Linked DNA regions of Homo sapiens. The protein of the gene in region 2 interacts with the protein of the main gene of each other region in a pairwise test. Each region holds a gene or a part of one and is shown on either strand. Other genes may lie near its edges.

Region 1 (3,565 bases), on a different chromosome or scaffold from region 2:
CCGCTGCGGAGGCGCCAACGACTCGTGCCTTTTCGTGCAGCGCGTGTTTCGTGACGCCGGTGACTACCTGCCCCGCCCTCCCTGCACACACGTCAGAGTGGGCCCTTTAACGAGCCGTGGCCCGGAAGCAAATTTCCGTGCTGATTGGCCAGTGTGCGGCCCAGCCCCCCTTTCTCCTCATCCTGATTGGCTACTGACAGATTGTCCCGCCCTTCCCCAGGACAGATGGGGTTTTAACCCTTTCCCTGCCACACTGAAGCAATAGTAATTGTAACTCCAAACGTTTACGGAGGGTTTTCCGGTTCCCAGGACCCTGGCTAGCTGTCTTACCCGCAGTAGCTCATTAAATCCTCAAGTCATCGCTCAAATACACCCCCACTGGCACCCCAACACCCTCCTACCCTCCCACCCAGGTGCCTTCGCTGGGTACTGGAACGTGACCCTGATCCCCGAGGGCGCCAGACACATCCGCGTGGAACACAGGAGCCGCAACCACCTGGGTATCCTAGGATGTGAGGCGAGAGGCACCCGGCTGGGCACCCGGGGGCGGTTGTCCCTGTTTACAGATGGGGAGACTGAGGCCTGAGGAGGGGACCCCAGGGTCTGGGAGACGAGACGACAGGTTCCTGAGGGCTGACTGTTCCCTTGCAGCACTGATGGGGGGCGATGGGCGCTACGTGCTTAATGGGCACTGGGTGGTCAGCCCACCAGGGACCTACGAGGCGGCCGGCACGCATGTGGTCTACACCCGAGACACAGGGCCCCAGGAGACATTGCAAGCAGCCGGGCCCACCTCCCATGACCTGCTCCTACAGGTGCCACTGGGCCTCCAACAGGGTCAGAGGGGGTCGGCTGGGGACAGAGGGGAGAGGCTGGGGACAGAGGGTAGGAGTGGAGGTGACTGGGGCCAGAAGGGGGAGTCTGGGGTCAGAGGGGAGAGGCTGGGACAGAGCATCAGAGGGGGGAGGGTGGGGACAGGGTCAGAGGGGATCAGCTAGGGACAGAGCATCAGAGGAGGGAGGCTGGGGGCAGACAGGATCAAAGTGGGGAGGCTGGGGTCGTAGGGTCAGAGGCAGGAGGCAACCCCAGCCTCCTGTGAAGCTCCCTGTGTCCCCTCCCCTGCTCCAGGTCCTCCTGCAGGAGCCCAACCCTGGCATCGAGTTTGAGTTCTGGCTCCCTCGGGAGCGCTACAGCCCCTTCCAGGCTCGTGTGCAGGCCCTGGGCTGGCCCCTGAGGCAGCCTCAGCCCCGGGGGGTGGAGCCTCAGCCCCCCGCAGCCCCTGCTGTCACCCCTGCACAGACCCCAACGCTGGCCCCAGGTGAGGTGGGGACAGCCAGGGTGGGGGATGAGTGGGGACTGAGGCCTGTGCCCCTCACAGCACCGCCCATCCCACAGACCCCTGCCCACCCTGCCCTGACACCCGCGGCCGCGCCCACCGACTACTCCACTATTGCGGCAGTGACTTTGGTGAGACCCCCGACCTCTACCCTGACTTAGCCCCTACTAACCTGGCCTCCTCCTGACCTCTGACCCTAATCTGACTTTACCCTTGACCCCTTCTTCTGATCCTAATTTGCCTCTTGACCCTAATCCCTCATTGATCCCTGACGTGATCCTGACTCTAGTCCCTATAGATCCCGAGGTCCCACCTGACCCTCAGTCCCTCTTCTGGCAAGGGAGGGGGCGTAGAGATTTGCGCAGAGTTGAGCAGCCAGCCAGCTTAGCACGTCCCCTCAACAGTGTTCCAGGCCCGAGTGCTGGGCCACCACCACCAGGCCCAGGAGACCCGCTATGAGGTGCGCATCCAGCTCGTCTACAAGAACCGCTCGCCACTGCGGGCACGCGAGTACGTGTGGGCGCCAGGCCACTGCCCCTGCCCGATGCTGGCACCCCACCGGGACTACCTGATGGCTGTCCAGCGTCTTGTCAGCCCCGACGGCACACAGGACCAGCTGCTGCTGCCCCACGCCGGCTACGCCCGGCCCTGGAGCCCTGCGGAGGACAGCCGCATACGCCTGACTGCCCGGCGCTGTCCTGGCTGAGCCCCTGCAGGAGCCCCGGCCACACACAGCAAGAAAGATACATCTGACCAGCCTCAACGTCAACGTATTTCCCCTCTCACCCTGGCTTCCAGGCAGCTCTGAAATACGTCCCACCTGTGCAGCTATGTGACTCCCTCCCACACACGCTTAAGACACCTCTGCATGCAGTCAAAGCCACTGTCACAAGCCGGCAGGCACTGGTGAGGAGGCACTAAGGAGACTCTGACTTTTATTTCGCCTCTCTCCTTGGCTGCCAGGAAGCTCATAGCTATTTATACTCAGAAAGTTTAACGCTGCTTTCTTTCTCTTTGCGCGCGTCACACTTGCTTGGAGACACTGTCATGAACGAGCATGACACCCTGCTGCCCTGGGTACCCAGAAGATCATCTGTTTACTTCCCAGACACTGTGCTGTCTCTGCTCTCTGCTACTCACACACACCCTCATGTGTGAAGGGCAGAGACACTGTCACAAACAGGCATGCCCCTTAGAAGACATGCCTAACCAGGCACTGTAACGTACCAACGTACCAATTTCCCCTTTTCCCCTGGCTACCAGGAAACTCGGAGACAATCTTTTCAGCCTCAGCATTTCTGGCTGGATTTCCACCCATCAACACGTGCTTGCTCCTCCTTTTTTTTTTTTTCTGAGGTAGACCCTTGCTCTGTCACCTAGGCTGAAGTGCGGTGGTGCAATCATGGCTCACTGCAGCCTCAAATTCCTGGGCTCAAGCGATCCTCCCACCTCAGCCTCCACAGCAGCTGGAACTCCAGGTGTGAATCACCATGCCCGGCTAACTTTTAAATTTTTTGTAGAGATGGGGTCTTGCTACGTTGCCCACACTGCTCTCCAACTACTGGCCTCAAACGATCCTCCTGCCTCGGCCTCCCAAAGCACTGGAATTTCAGGCATGCACTATCGTACTGGCTGTTCACCCCCCTTTTATTCCTCTTTAATTTTTACAAGCACTTTTTAAAAAAAAATTTTACTTTAAGTTCTGGGTGTGTACAGAATGTGCAGGTTTATTACATTAGTATACACGTGCCATGGTGGTTTGTGGCACCCATCAACCCATCATCTAGGTTTTAAGCCCCACATGCATTAGGTATTTGTGCTAATGCTCTCCCTCCCCTCGGCCCCCACCCCACAAAGGACCCGGTGTGTGATGTTCCCCTCCCTGTGTCCATGTGTTCTCATTGTTCAACTCCCACTTGTGAGTGAGAACAAGTGGTGTTTGGTTTTCTGTTCCTGTGTGAGTTTGCTGAGAATGATGGCTTCTAGCTTCATCCATGTCCCTGCAAAGGACATGAACTCATCCTTTTTTATGGCTGCAGAGCACTTTTTTTTTTTTTAAGCACCCCAGTCACATGCACTCGGTCACAGAGACTCAGGGACACGCTGGTAGAACCCCGTCTCGACCTTGCTCATGGGTAGGCACGCATGTTCACACGCACCCCACCCCTCCTCCTGGTCCAGCCTCACCTCCTCCCTGCACGTCTGACACTGTGTGAGGTGAGGGCAGGG
Region 2 (4,996 bases):
TTTTTCTGAGACAGAGTCTCACTCTGTCACCCAGGCTGGAGTACAGTGGCACGATCTCAGCTCACTGCAACCTCTGCTTCCTGGGTTCAAGCAATTCTCCTGCCTCAGCCTCCCGAGTAGCTGGGACTACAGGCATGTGCCACCACGCCTGGCTAATTTTTGTATTTGTAGTGGAGATGGGGTTTCACCACGTTGGCCAGGCTGGTCTTGAACTCCTGACCGAATGATGCACCCACCTCGGCCTCCCAGAGTGCTGGGATTACAGGCATGAGCCACTGCGCCCGGCCCTGACCACCTCAGCTTGTGCTGTTGTCACATTTCCTTCATCCACAGTGACCTGGGCAACCTCAAGGTGCCCCCTCTGGGGCCTCTCTCAGCTAACCTCCCACCAGGGAGCCCACTAACCACCCTTCTACCCTGTCCCTTAGTCCAGGGCTCCCAGCGCTGTGAACTGAACTGCCGGCCCCGTGGCTTCCGCTTCTATGTCCGTCACACTGAAAAGGTCCAGGATGGGACCCTGTGTCAGCCTGGAGCCCCTGACATCTGTGTGGCTGGACGCTGTCTGGTGAGGGAAGACAGTGTGTGTGTGCACACACACATGCATATGCACACAGACACATGCCCCCATATGCATACACATGTACACACATATGTATGAACACATGCACACATGCAAGCACATACACACACGCATATGCGCACAGACACATGCACACACGCACACACACACACGCACACACACGCATATGCACACACATGCACATGCATATGCAGACACATGCATGCACATGTGCACACGTGCATGAACACATGCACACACACGTATGCAGACACATGCACACACATGTAGACACACATGCATGAACACATGCACACATGCACACACACGTATTTGCACAGTCTCAATTCAACAACAAAACACCATACTGAGATCACTGAGGGAGAATTCTCACCTGCCAAGCTGCGCTGAGCAGAGCCTGAAGGATCTGATCGGGCACCTGTCCATGTCCCTGGGTCTGGCTGGGGATGGTGGGGCTGTTTTTGTGCTCTCACTTGTGGCACAAAAAGCAGGGTAGTGAGCTGAGGCTCCCGAGGGGACCGGGGTGGGGTTGAGGTGGTGTCTGGCGTTCTGTGGCCACTGCCTCACCTCACTCTCTCCAGAGCCCCGGCTGTGATGGGATCCTTGGCTCTGGCAGGCGTCCTGATGGCTGTGGAGTCTGTGGGGGTGATGATTCTACCTGTCGCCTTGTTTCGGGGAACCTCACTGACCGAGGGGGCCCCCTGGGCTATCAGAAGATCTTGTGGATTCCAGCGGGAGCCTTGCGGCTCCAGATTGCCCAGCTCCGGCCTAGCTCCAACTACCTGGGTGAGCACCCAGCTGCCTCCCCTTCCACTTCCGTCTCTGTTCGGCCCTCCATACCCCTACTCAGAGCAGTGAGCAAGCCAAACAGGGGGAAGTCCAGGGCCTAGCCCCTCCCCTCGTGGAAGGAGTGAGGAAGCTGAGAGGGCTTGGGGGGATCTTAGGTTCTGGTGGGAGCTTCTATAGGCTAAGGACACGGTGTGGGAGGAGGAAGGTATTATCACCCTGGAATTTCCCGATCTCTCACCTCTGACCCGCAGCACTTCGTGGCCCTGGGGGCCGGTCCATCATCAATGGGAACTGGGCTGTGGATCCCCCTGGGTCCTACAGGGCCGGCGGGACCGTCTTTCGATATAACCGTCCTCCCAGGGAGGAGGGCAAAGGGGAGAGTCTGTCGGCTGAAGGCCCCACCACCCAGCCTGTGGATGTCTATGTGAGCCTGGGGCCAGGGGCAGCTGAATGCTGGGGAGGGAGGCTGTTCCCTCTGGGCAGAGCTGTGGTTGTCAAGATGGGAGAGAGAGCTGGTGGCATCCTCTTCTGGCCACCCCCACATATTCATTATCTTCTCTTCTCCCCAGATGATCTTTCAGGAGGAAAACCCAGGCGTTTTTTATCAGTATGTCATCTCTTCACCTCCTCCAATCCTTGAGAACCCCACCCCAGAGCCCCCTGTCCCCCAGCTTCAGCCGGGTAAGACTCTGACCCCTGCACTTGGAAGGAGGAGGGAGAGGCTGCAGGGCTGGCTCGGGGCAGTGGGGTGGCATCTGATTCGCCTGCTCCCCTGCACAGAGATTCTGAGGGTGGAGCCCCCACTTGCTCCGGCACCCCGCCCAGCCCGGACCCCAGGCACCCTCCAGCGTCAGGTGCGGATCCCCCAGATGCCCGCCCCGCCCCATCCCAGGACACCCCTGGGGTCTCCAGCTGCGTACTGGAAACGAGTGGGACACTCTGCATGCTCAGCGTCCTGCGGGAAAGGTGAGACATCACAGTGCGTTCCCCGCATCTCGGTCCAAACCCCCCAACTGACACTCCCGCATCCTGGATTGTGGGGCCACGCCCGACCCTGCGTCTGGGACACCACTGAGCTTGGGCTCTAGCCTCCTGCCTCCCTGGCTGCCTTCTCACCCACTCAGGTGTCTGGCGCCCCATTTTCCTCTGCATCTCCCGTGAGTCGGGAGAGGAACTGGATGAACGCAGCTGTGCCGCGGGTGCCAGGCCCCCAGCCTCCCCTGAACCCTGCCACGGCACCCCATGCCCCCCATAGTGAGTATGGGGGAGCCCACGGGGAGGGTTAGGGTACTGGAAACACAGCAGTTGCCCCCAGAATCTTACCTGAACTCTGCACTCAACGCAACATCTCCTGGCTGCAGAGAGACAACATTAGATTAGAAAGGCAGACATTCGGTAGGCAGCAAGAAAGCCATGGCAGGCTGAGCCCCCCAGGAACCCAGACTCCAAACGCCAAACGTGCCCACTCTCCTCTGAGGCCCCCACGTCCAGTGTGTCTTCCATCTCTGCTGCCACGGCAGCCCCACACATCTCATCTATGTCTCCGCCTCTTCCCTGCCCTGCTGGTGCCTGCAGCTGGGAGGCTGGCGAGTGGACATCCTGCAGCCGCTCCTGTGGCCCCGGCACCCAGCACCGCCAGCTGCAGTGCCGGCAGGAATTTGGGGGGGGTGGCTCCTCGGTGCCCCCGGAGCGCTGTGGACATCTCCCCCGGCCCAACATCACCCAGTCTTGCCAGCTGCGCCTCTGTGGCCATTGGGAAGTTGGCTCTCCTTGGAGCCAGGTGAGTTTGCCCAGGCAAGGAGGTGCTGGGGAGGGGAATGGGCACAGGTGAACAACAGCAGTGGTTTTTCAACTTCTTTTTCATCAGCAGAAACTATTTACAAACAGGGTTTCATATGGACCCCCAATATAGAAGTCAGATAAGGGACTGAACCAGGGACTGGGGGCCCAGGGCCCTAGGGCTCAGCCTCCTCCTCAGCCCACGAAGCCATGTGACTGCTGGGCTGGGGATCGAAGGCAGAGCCTGGTTCTGAAGCCTAGAGCTGGAAGCTGGCTGAGAAGGTCTGGGAAGCCCAGCTCCCTGGATTCCCCTCGCCCCCTCAGTGCTCCGTGCGGTGCGGCCGGGGCCAGAGAAGCCGGCAGGTTCGCTGTGTTGGGAACAATGGTGATGAAGTGAGCGAGCAGGAGTGTGCGTCAGGCCCCCCGCAGCCCCCCAGCAGAGAGGCCTGTGACATGGGGCCCTGTACTACTGCCTGGTTCCACAGCGACTGGAGCTCCAAGGTGAGCCCGGAACCCCCAGCCATATCCTGCATCCTGGGTAACCACGCCCAGGACACCTCAGCCTTTCCAGCATAGCTCAATAAACTTGTATTGATCAAGCGCCTGCTATATGCCTGACCCTGGGAACTCAGAGATAAGTGAGAACAACTTCCATGAGGGGCCCGGCTAGGATTCCTCGTCCGGGCCTGGTACCCGGGGACATTCCCAACCACCCAGGATTCGGACCCAGGATGCGTCCCTCCCTGCCCCCCTACTGTCCCTTGTGCCAGTCACCAGCAGGCCCCTCACACAGGCCGCTCTCCTCCTCCGCAGTGCTCAGCCGAGTGTGGGACGGGAATCCAGCGGCGCTCTGTGGTCTGCCTTGGGAGTGGGGCAGCCCTCGGGCCAGGCCAGGGGGAAGCAGGAGCAGGAACTGGGCAGAGCTGTCCAACAGGAAGCCGGCCCCCTGACATGCGCGCCTGCAGCCTGGGGCCCTGTGAGAGAACTTGGCGCTGGTACACAGGGCCCTGGGGTGAGGTAAGCTGAGCGCCTGCTGAGAGCAGGAAGGGGGTGCCAGTCCCAGTGGGATTCCTTGTGGGCACTTGGGGTGCTCTCTGTCCTCCCCTCCCCTCATCACCCTGCCCTCCCCCTACACTAGTGCTCCTCCGAATGTGGCTCTGGCACACAGCGTAGAGACATCATCTGTGTATCCAAACTGGGGACGGAGTTCAACGTGACTTCTCCGAGCAACTGTTCTCACCTCCCCAGGCCCCCTGCCCTGCAGCCCTGTCAAGGGCAGGCCTGCCAGGACCGATGGTTTTCCACGCCCTGGAGCCCAGTGAGTGTCTGGCTGCGCTGTCCTGCCCTGCTCAGCCTGGGCCCCTAGGGGAGGGGAGCTCCTCTCGCTGTACCCCCTCCAGGTCTCTCTGTGCCCCAGAATAAGCCCAGCCAAGCGTTACCACTGTCCTACTTCTTATAGACTTGGAGGAAAGATGGGCCCTCTCCATTTGGGATTTCACAATGTCCTAGGAGGGTCCCCACCACCACCTTTTGGGGAGAGAGGTGGCAGCCAGGGGTTAAGGAGAATCCCGGGCCTGGCAAAGGTCTGATATGATGGCTGGGGTCGCCCCAGTGTTCTCGCTCCTGCCAAGGGGGAACGCAGACACGGGAGGTCCAGTGCCTGAGCACCAACCAGACCCTCAGCACCCGATGCCCTCCTCAACTGCGGCCCTCCAGGAAGCGCCCCTGTAACAGCCAACCCTGCAGCCAGCGCCCTGGTAAAGAGCCCCCTCTCCCCAATCCCCAATACAGTGGATTAGCTGAAGTATGGGAGGAGATGAGAAAGGACCAGTGGGAATGGGCAGCACA
Region 3 (4,316 bases), on a different chromosome or scaffold from region 2:
ACAATCTTGGCTCACTGCAGCCTCCACCTCCCAGGTTCTTAGCCTCCCAAGTAGCTGGGATTACAGGTGTGCGCCACCACACGCACCTAATTTCTGTATTTTTAGTAGAGATGGGGTTTTACCATGTTAGCCAGGCTGGTCTCGAACTCCTGACCTCAGGTGATCCACTGGCCTCAGCCTCCCAAAGTGCTGGGATTACAGGTGTGAGCCACCGCACCCAGCCAGTGGAAAAGAGCTCTGACGGGAGCCCAGCCCTCTGGGGCAGCACATGTGTCGTAAAATGCTGGGTGATGCTCATCAGCACAGCACCCAACGGACCACTCAGAAGCACATCCTCCGTGGAGGAATCAGCGTTACCTAGGTGAGGCCAGAGAGGAAACAGGACAGTGCTTGTACAAGTGGCTGCCTGAAGTCTGAATCTTCACACTGGACTCCTCACACACAAAAAGTACCACATGCAACACAGAATTGTTTTGTTTTTTTGAGACGGAGTCTTACTCTGTCCCCCAGGCTGGAGTGCAATGGCATGATCTCGGCTCACTGCAACCTCTGCCTCCTGGGTTCAAGCTATTCTCCTACCTCAGCTTCCCGAGCAGCGGGATTACAGGCATGTGCCATCATGCCCAGCTAATTTTCATATTTTTAGTAAAGACAGGGTTTCACCATTTTGGCCAGGCTGGTCTCGAACGCCTGACCTCGTGATCCACCTGACTCAGCCTCCCAAAGTGCTGCGATGACAGGCGTGAGGCACCGCACCAGGCCCACAGATCTTAATTTAAAAAGTTTTATGAAAAAAATCAATGCCCTTTGAAAAACAGGCTGGGTGCGGTGGCTGATGCCTATAATCCCAGTACTTTGGGAGGCCAAGGCAAGTGGATCACTTGAGGCCAGGTGTTCAACACCAGCCTGGACAACATTGTGAGACCCCATCAATATAGAAAATAAAGTTTTTTAAAAAGGTAATGCTGGAGGAAAGCTTAGGATTGACAGGAAACACAGCCTTCAAGGGAAAATGCTTGCATTACACTGAAAAGTCTCTTTAAAACAAAAACTGACGAAACAAAGCAGTACTCACATATACTTTAGGCTTCGTTTCCACAAAAGGCTCTTCAAAGTCAGAAAAATGGAACCAGCATAATAGAAAAACTACAAATGGCCAACACAGATAAAAATAAGTTCAACCGGCATGGTGGCTCAAGCTTGTAATCTCAGCACTTTGGGAGGCTGAGGCAGGTGGATCGCCTGAGGTCAGGAGTTTGAGACCAGCCTGGCCAACATGGTGAAACCCCGTCTCCACTAAAAATACAAAAATTACCCAGGTGTGGTGGCAGGTGCCTGTAATCGCAGCTACTTGGGAGGCTGAGACAGGAGAATTGCTTCAACTCACTTGAACCCAGGAGGTGGAGATTGCAGTGAGCCAAGATTTCACCACTGCATTCCTGCCTGGGTGACAGTGAGACTCTGCCTCAAAAATAAAATAAAATAAAGTAAAATAAGTTCAACCTCAGGGAGGTGCAGATAAAATCAAGGAGGTATTCAGCATGTATCAGATTGGCAAGGGCTGGACAGTTTGGCACTTCTTGCAGGGCTTAGGAAGTGGGGAAACGGAAGGCATGATAATGAGTGCCTGGGGTGGGTGGGCACAACCACCGAGACATCAACCAGCAACGCCCACCAGTTTCTAAATCTGCATGTCCTGGAAATGAATCAAGTATCCAATAACAGAGTAACTGTTAAATTACGGTAAGTGGTTAAATAGAATATGAAGCAACCATTAAAAAAGCAATTAGTTGGTGGGGCACGGTGGCGCATGCCTGTAGCCGAGGCGGTTGGATCACCTGAGGTCAGGAGTTAGAGACCAGCCTGACTAAGGTGGTGAAACCCTGTATCTACTAAATACAAAAAATTAGCCAGGCGTGGTGGCGCATGCCTGTAATCCCAGCTACTTGGGAGGCTGAGGCAGTAGAATCACTTGAACCCAGGAGGCAGAGGCTGCACTCCAGCCTGGACGACAGATTGAGACTTCATCTAAAAATAATAATAATAAAATAAAAGTAAAAAACCAACTAGTTGAAGTGAATTCTATTGTATTAACAGAGTAAAAATGCCCCAAGTCCCAATGTTAAGTGGGGAAAAAGCAAGCTGTGGGTGACTGAGGACCATAAGCATCTGACCCTCTCAGCAATCTACACATGTAGGAACACTCCTGCCACTACATGCAAAATGCCAAGGAAGATGCACGGCAGTCGGTCACTACGGTGGGGAGACTTTTTTTCACAACATACCCTTACTTTTAAGAAAAAAAAAAAAGTGAGTATGTTCCTATTATTTCAGTTTTGTTTCTTCTAGGAAAAATAGTTGGCAGTATTACTAAAGGCCCTGAGCCACCAAACTGATAAAAGGACATTTGTTTTAATGATTCCTCAGAGCATTTCCAATTTGGTCTTCCTTCCCACCAATGAGGCTTCCTCCCTAGTGACTTTGAGATGGGAGTCTCGCTCTGTGGCACATGCTGGAGTACAGTGGCGCAATCTTGGCTCACTGAAACCTCTACCTCCCAGGTTCAAGTGATTCTTGTGCCTCAGCCTCCTGAGTAGCTGGGATTACAGGCCTGTGCTACCACGTTTGGCTAATTTTTGTAGTATAGTCCGTGTTTCGTTATGTTGGCCAGGCTGGTCTTGAACTCCTGGCTTCAAGGGATCTAACTGCCTCAGCTTCCCAAAGTGCTAGGATTACAGGCATGAGCCACTGGACCTGGCCCCTAGTGACTTTCTTAATAATCTTCCCCTTTTCCGTGACTCGTGGGTAGGCAGCGTCTCACGTGGCCATGCATGTCAGTGACCCACACAGCCTCCACACTGTGAGGTTAGCATGTCTCGTGGGCAGACAGCAGTGTCCTTGGATGTACCCGGGGGCTTTGTGCTGTAGAGATGTTATTTTAAATAATAAGCCAAGTCGAGGATGGGAGCGTTTCCATGGCAACTTGAATTTTAAAACCAAGATTTCTTTGGTTACTGTGGTGGCTGAGAACACAGGCAGCTGCCATGTCCAGTGGCTCTCAACTCCTGGAGGACAACCTGCCGTGGCCATTCCCTGGAGTCCCACAGGGCCCCCTCGCCACTTCACTAGCAGGCGACTTCCCTGCACCCGCCCTCCTTTTCATGGTTCCCAGGCCCTCCCACACCTCCCTGTGCTCCCTACTCATTCCCAGGCTCCCCGGGGCCACCGCTGCCAGCCCCAGGGCCCAGCCCATTCCACTAGTCCCAGGCTGAGCGCTGGGAAGTTCTTTCAGCCCCGCACCTTGGCCCAGGGCTGTGGTGTTCCTGGCTTCTCTGCTCCTCCCCTATGGTATCCAGGTTGGGGCTCAAGGGGCCGCCAGCGTGCTGCAACCGGACGATAAAATGAGCCCTGCACTTGGAGTCAGGAGACCTGCATTTGGATCTGGCTCTGCCACTGACTAAATGGCACCCTTGGGGTCTGACCTTCCCCAAGCCTCAGTTTCACCACCTATAAAATGGAGCTAGTAACCATCGTGTCTCAGGTGGCAGTCAAGAATGAAATGAGGAGGACCAAAGCGCCGGCACATGCCTGGCATGCAGTGATAAGGTAGGAAGGGCACTCGCTCCAGCGGGCTCTGTTCCCTCCCTCTCTCCTCTAACACTTCTAGCTCTCAGTTCACACTAAACCTATTCCAATAGGTCCCCAACGCCAGGAAGAGTCTAAATGAAAACAAGTTTGTTTTTTTTGTTTGTTTTAAGACAGGATCTCACTCTGTTGCCCAGGCTGGAGTGCAGTGGCACGATCATGGCTCACTGCAAACTCTGCCTCCTGGGCTCAAGAGATCTGCTCCCCTCAGCCTCCTAAGGAGCTGGGACTACAGGCATACACCACTACGCCCAGCTTTGTATTTTTTGTAGAGATGGGGTTTTGCTATGTTGCCCAGGCTGGTCTCAAACTCCTGGACTCAAGTGATCTGCCCGCCTTGGCCTCCCAAAGTGTCGGGATTATAGGTGTGAGCCACCATGCCCAGTAAAACAAGCTCTTAACTTCAATTAACCCCAGCATTTAACATCCAAAAATGCTTCCACTCTTGAGGGTCCCGAGACTGCTGAGAACTCAAAAAGTGTCAAGCCAAACACAGAGGTCCTGACAGCAGTGGCAATCTCACTCCATTGTGCAACAGGCGCCTTTCTCTCCACAACAACGCAAATCTCAATCACTCTGGACAAATGCAGATGGTGAAAGTGACAAGCTGAGCTGTTAACAGCTTTCCAGGGTCTTTGCATGGGACAGCAACCCATTTTCACTTCCCTTTA
Region 4 (4,857 bases), on a different chromosome or scaffold from region 2:
TTCAACAAGCATGTAAGTTAAACCCTGGACACTCTTTGTTTGGATACCTAAAAGTCACTCAGGAAAGTGAACCATGAAAGTGGGGTTAGGGGGTGGAATGCGATGATTGCCAGTTAGTTGGTGATGTCCTGATGTTCACAGGGTCCAGGCTACTGGAGGTCATTCCATGGGGTGTACTCAGTTCAAGGCCAGAGCTCATTACCGAGAGTATCATAAAGCTATATCTTCTGAGTGCGGTGGCAGGGGTGAGGGGGGCTATGTGTGGCTCTTATTCCAGACAGGGACAAACATGTGGAACAAACACTCTGGGCCAGCAGGCAGAGCAGGCGGCCACATCTTCCTGAGCTTCCTCATTGTTGTTCCCCGGGGAGAGGGTTTTGTGTCTGCTGCCTGGACCTAAACTGGGAAGAGAAGGTACCGTCACCTTCAATGAAGGTGTATCTGACAGTAGGGGTGTTGGAAAGGAGATTGCAACATGTCTGAGAAGGGCTATCCTCTTCCATTTGACCGGGACTAACTGGGAAGCCAATATCATCCACCAGGAAAAGCGCACCTGGGCATTCCCCAAGATAACCTGCAAGTCCTACATATTCTTCCAGGGAATGGTCTGCACTTTCCCAGGGGCAGGGGTGCCTGAGTTAAGGTCGTGGGGGCAGTCTCCATCTCCCAGAGATGATTAGTTATTTTCTCCGTGGGTAAGCTATGGAGGCCCCACTCAGACCTGGTAAACAAAGACTCCACTGCAAACATTTTTGGGATTCAACCCCTAGAGCCAACAGCACTCATTTTACCCCTTTTACTTAAAGATTAAGTTGGATATTCTTCCTTTTTGTCATCATTGGTCTCTCAGTCTCCTTACTTCATTAGGCCAAAATATGGAATTTCAAGGAGGGGTGGGAGGGGGGCAGCACTGGCACACCTTGAAATAGGGAACAAGTGTTGGCTGCTGACCCCATGTGGGGCTGAAGAATCGTGTATCTCCATTTCAGACAATGCATTTCAATTCTTGTCGTGTGCCTTTGTCCATTTGTATAAAGCAAAGAGCTCTGAGTGACAGCCCCAGTTAGCCTGCATGAGCAGATCCTAATAAACCCTCCCAAACCCCAACCTAAAAAAAAAAAAAGCCACATGCCTGTTTGCCTGAGGCTTATTATTAAGACACCTTCTCAGCTTAAACACTTAAAAGCAAACCAAATGAAATGGCAATTAAGACTGAATTACCCCTTCTATCTATGAGATGAGTCTGTGGGGCCAGCCAGTTCTTTCTTATAATGTAGACACTGAGGAGCAAAGCCTCAGTATTTCAGGTTTATAGCTACCACCACCCCCTCCAGGCACTAAACAACTTGGTGGAGGAAGCTGAATTTTGAAGGAAGGAAAGCTCAAAAACTGTTTGAAAGTCAAGAAATCCACTGAAGAGATGGAAATATGTGTGCACTGCTTCCTTCCTGCCCTCTATTTATAAAATATAACTTCCAAGCATTTAAGGGTTATTTTGGGGGTAATAGTGTTCAAAAACCTAATGCTACTGCTGAACGGTCTACACCCCACCACCACCAGCAGTGTTTCCAAAAGGGAAGAAGAAAAACACAAAAGAGGGGGGATATGGTTTGGTTTGGGGAGTGAAAGACAACAGTTTACCTAAATGTAGAATCTTGTCTTACATCTTTATTCCCTTGCATTTTTCCTAAATGCATTGCCAGTTACACCATTTCCTGATGATGGAAACTTGGGACTGTCCATCACCATTATTTATTTTTAAAGCTGCTGAAAAGTGTAAGCCACCGCTTGATTTTGCCTTTCAAAAAAGGGGAAAGAACCCAAATTCAATGTAAATATGGAAAGACCAGCATTGTTTCCACTTGGGCGAAGGCAGACACCCCAATCTGGGCAAAATTGATTCGGGTGGTTGTTGGAAAAAGCAGCTTTCAGCATCCAGGGAGTGGAACCAATAGGAATGAACACTTCCCCATATAAAAGGAAGCTTTAATTAATATATATTTCTATCTCTAATATACATATATTGGAGCTAGAGCTCTAGCTTCACAATAAAATGTGTGCAAATACTCTCCACAGAGATAAGTCCCCACCTCAGTCGGTATAGAAAAGCATGATAAAGGTTGGAAAAAATGGATAAAAATGTTGAAAGAACCTCCAGTTCCTTATTAGGCGAAGATACAATATTTATTCCTTGTCTCCTGGGATAAATCTCTTCTGCCTATTGTCCTCCCAGTTCTCAGTGCTGATGCTTAATTTTCAAAACTTCTATATTACCAAGGGACCTACGACATCAGCCAAAGAAATACTCAGCAAGTACAAAATCTGTTCCAGGGAGCTGCTTTTGTGCAGAGGGAAAATTTTGTTCCTACAGGTTTTTAAGTGGGTACGAGGCAAGGAGCTATCTGATCCGGGCAAAACCATTACAATTTAGATATCTACCTATAGAACATTTTTTTTTTCCTTTAAAAATTGGAAAATACAAGAAGTTTGGATTTTTTTTTCCCGATTCTTTTTTTGGAGGGGGAAATTGCATCGTAAGCTTTCGGAGAAACCCAACATGTCAACTACCTTTCCGGGACTAGTCCACGATGCCGAGGTATTATTACTTTTTTTTTTTTTTTTTTTTGAGCGCGCGTGTGTGTGGCGGCGGCGGCGGTGGCGGCGGTGGCGGCGGCGGTGGCAGCCTCCCCTGTCTCTAATCTATATTGGACCGTTACGTTTAATTATAATCTGTCTTTCGGGGGAAGTTAAGGAAGGAAAGGGGAGAAAGTTCGTTATGACATCTGTCGCCAGGGAGGGCAACTCTCTGCCACGTTAAGAAACATTTGCCATAATGAGCGGGAAAACATAATCTTAATAATAAAAGGGGGGAGTGAAGAGAAAGAGATAGAGACGGAAAGAAAGATTCTCAGAAAAGCAAAGAAAAGGGACTGGTGGGGAAGCAGTAGATGCACAAGGGGGATGGGGAAAACGCACCCCTTTTGGAATGGGCTTATTCAAGGAAAGGGAAGCAGAAAAGAGGGAGTCGGATTCCCTCCCTCGAATGACTAAGGAAGGGAGCAAGTTGAACGATTTGCACAGACTGGATTTTTTAAAATATATGGACAATGATTTTGAGCAGCCCGGGCCGAACATCTCGGCATAGACAGGCGCAGAATTTCGATGCTGGGGTCTAGTTAGAGTGGCAAGGCGCCCCGGGCCAGCGCTCTTTTCGGGTGGACTCGTTCCTCTGCTACCCGCGGCCCCGGAGTCAGTTGCAAACCTGGATCCCAACGCCAAGCTCCCTGCACAAGTTGGGCAGGGGCTGTGTGTGTGTCTGTGTGTGTGTGTCTGTGCGTGTGTGTGCGTGTGTGGTGTCACCCGCACCTATATAGGGTGGGGGATTTTTTTTCCGCTCTCTCGACTGTGAGGACGAGGCCGCCCACCCCCAGTTCGCCTGTTTGCAAAGGCTCTCTGGTGAAGACGCTGAGACCCGGCTTCGGCTCGGCCCGAGTCCTACGCGCTCGCTTTCCTTGGAGTGCCAGAGAAAGCTCCTGGCTCCGGGAGAGCGGCGCCTTGGTTGCAAAATGACAAACCTCAAGTTTTTCTGCTCTCCCTTTTCCCCCTCTTCCTTCCAGATACGTCACGACGGATCAAACAGCTACCGTTTGATGCAGCTTGGCTGTCTGGAGTCAGTAGCCAATTCCACTGTCGCCTATTCCTCCTCCTCTCCTTTAACTTACTCCACCACCGGCACCGAGTTTGCGTCCCCCTACTTCTCCACTAACCACCAGTACACCCCGCTCCACCACCAGTCCTTCCATTACGAGTTTCAGCACAGCCACCCGGCCGTCACCCCCGACGCCTACTCTCTGAACTCTCTCCACCACTCGCAACAGTACTACCAGCAGATCCACCACGGGGAGCCCACCGACTTTATTAACCTGCACAATGCGCGGGCGCTCAAGTCGTCCTGCCTGGACGAGCAGAGGCGGGAGCTGGGCTGCCTCGATGCCTACCGCCGCCATGACCTGTCCCTCATGAGCCATGGCTCTCAGTATGGAATGCACCCAGATCAAAGACTCCTGCCAGGGCCCAGCCTGGGGCTGGCCGCCGCGGGAGCAGACGACTTGCAGGTAAATAAGCATGCAGCGAATTTGTCTGCTCCCTCCCCTCTTCGCCCTCCCCCTGCCGCCCCATTAATGCTCCGACTGTAAAGCGTCTCTCTTTCTCTCTCTCTTCTCCTCTCTCTCTCTCTCTCTCTCTCTCTCTCACACACACACACACACACACACACACACACCACTTATGGAAAGTTATCAAAACAATTAGAGGAGGAGTGTGCCCGTTCTCTTCCTCTCATTGGATCCAAGCATTTCACCTGGAAGTGCGGGAGTCCGGGCGGCTGCGGCCCTCCATCTTTGGTTTGTCCTCACAGAAGTCTTTTGTGAATCAACATTTGTGACCCTGAGGGGATGAGGTGGAGGAGATCGAGGAGTCTGGGGTTGGGCCAACCGGACTCAGAGTAAGATCCAATAAATTGATGACCAATCGTACCCTCAATCTCCGCACTTTACAGGGTCTTCCGAGGCGTCCCAGGTGTTTGTCTCAGACTGAGCTTGTGGAGATCTTACTACAAACAGGCTTGTTCTAAGGAAATTGTTGGGACCCTAAGCTTGAACAAAAGTTTCACCAAATACACTAGATATCTGTGGAAAGTAAAGAATCGCAAATGAAAGTCTCAAAGTTCTACCCCAAGGAAATAATCCGCACAGTGCACTTTGCCAGGGTGTAGGGTTGAGTTTAATTCTCTCCGCCTGACGTGCACTCAAAACCGCAGCCCAGTTAGGTAATTTACAAGTTTATTTTTGCTCTTCC

Evidence for each region. The genes of interacting proteins can lie anywhere in the genome.
Region 1: the proteins of ADAMTSL4 (region 2) and ADAMTSL5 interact in binary tests that used the Homo sapiens proteins (3 or more experiments, as listed by UniProt).
Region 3: the proteins of ADAMTSL4 (region 2) and CTSB interact in binary tests that used the Homo sapiens proteins (3 or more experiments, as listed by UniProt).
Region 4: the proteins of ADAMTSL4 (region 2) and TFAP2D interact in binary tests that used the Homo sapiens proteins (3 or more experiments, as listed by UniProt).

What each region holds. Positions count from the first base shown.
Region 1 is NC_000019.10:1,504,492-1,508,056, reverse strand, and holds the end of ADAMTSL5 (ADAMTS-like protein 5 isoform 2 precursor), read left to right. Parts: coding exon 1-59; exon of another isoform or gene 60-65; intron 66-413; coding exon 414-500; coding exon of another isoform or gene 501-512; intron 513-651; coding exon 652-815; intron 816-1,128; coding exon 1,129-1,318; intron 1,319-1,395; coding exon 1,396-1,467; intron 1,468-1,740; coding exon 1,741-2,042; 3' UTR 2,043-3,035; downstream 3,036-3,565. UniProt on the Homo sapiens protein: May play a role in modulation of fibrillin microfibrils in the extracellular matrix (ECM).
Region 2 is NC_000001.11:150,555,001-150,559,996, forward strand, and holds part of ADAMTSL4 (ADAMTS-like protein 4 isoform 1 precursor), read left to right. Parts: intron 1-428; coding exon 429-565; intron 566-953; exon of another isoform or gene 954-1,052; intron 1,053-1,147; exon of another isoform or gene 1,148-1,161; coding exon 1,162-1,366; intron 1,367-1,607; exon of another isoform or gene 1,608-1,620; coding exon 1,621-1,793; intron 1,794-1,938; coding exon 1,939-2,050; intron 2,051-2,149; coding exon 2,150-2,335; intron 2,336-2,493; coding exon 2,494-2,623; intron 2,624-2,692; exon of another isoform or gene 2,693-2,724; intron 2,725-2,944; coding exon 2,945-3,149; intron 3,150-3,236; coding exon of another isoform or gene 3,237-3,292; exon of another isoform or gene 3,293-3,472; coding exon 3,473-3,649; coding exon of another isoform or gene 3,650-3,724; exon of another isoform or gene 3,725-3,748; intron 3,749-3,961; coding exon 3,962-4,165; intron 4,166-4,286; coding exon 4,287-4,466; intron 4,467-4,760; coding exon 4,761-4,905; intron 4,906-4,996. UniProt on the Homo sapiens protein: Positive regulation of apoptosis. May facilitate FBN1 microfibril biogenesis.
Region 3 is NC_000008.11:11,854,558-11,858,873, forward strand, and holds part of CTSB (cathepsin B isoform 1 preproprotein), read right to left. Parts: intron 3,384-4,316; exon of another isoform or gene 3,301-3,383; intron 1-3,300. UniProt on the Homo sapiens protein: Thiol protease which is believed to participate in intracellular degradation and turnover of proteins. Cleaves matrix extracellular phosphoglycoprotein MEPE. Involved in the solubilization of cross-linked TG/thyroglobulin in the thyroid follicle lumen.
Region 4 is NC_000006.12:50,711,499-50,716,355, forward strand, and holds the start of TFAP2D (transcription factor AP-2-delta), read left to right. Parts: upstream 1-2,027; 5' UTR 2,028-2,557; coding exon 2,558-2,596; intron 2,597-3,617; coding exon 3,618-4,115; intron 4,116-4,857.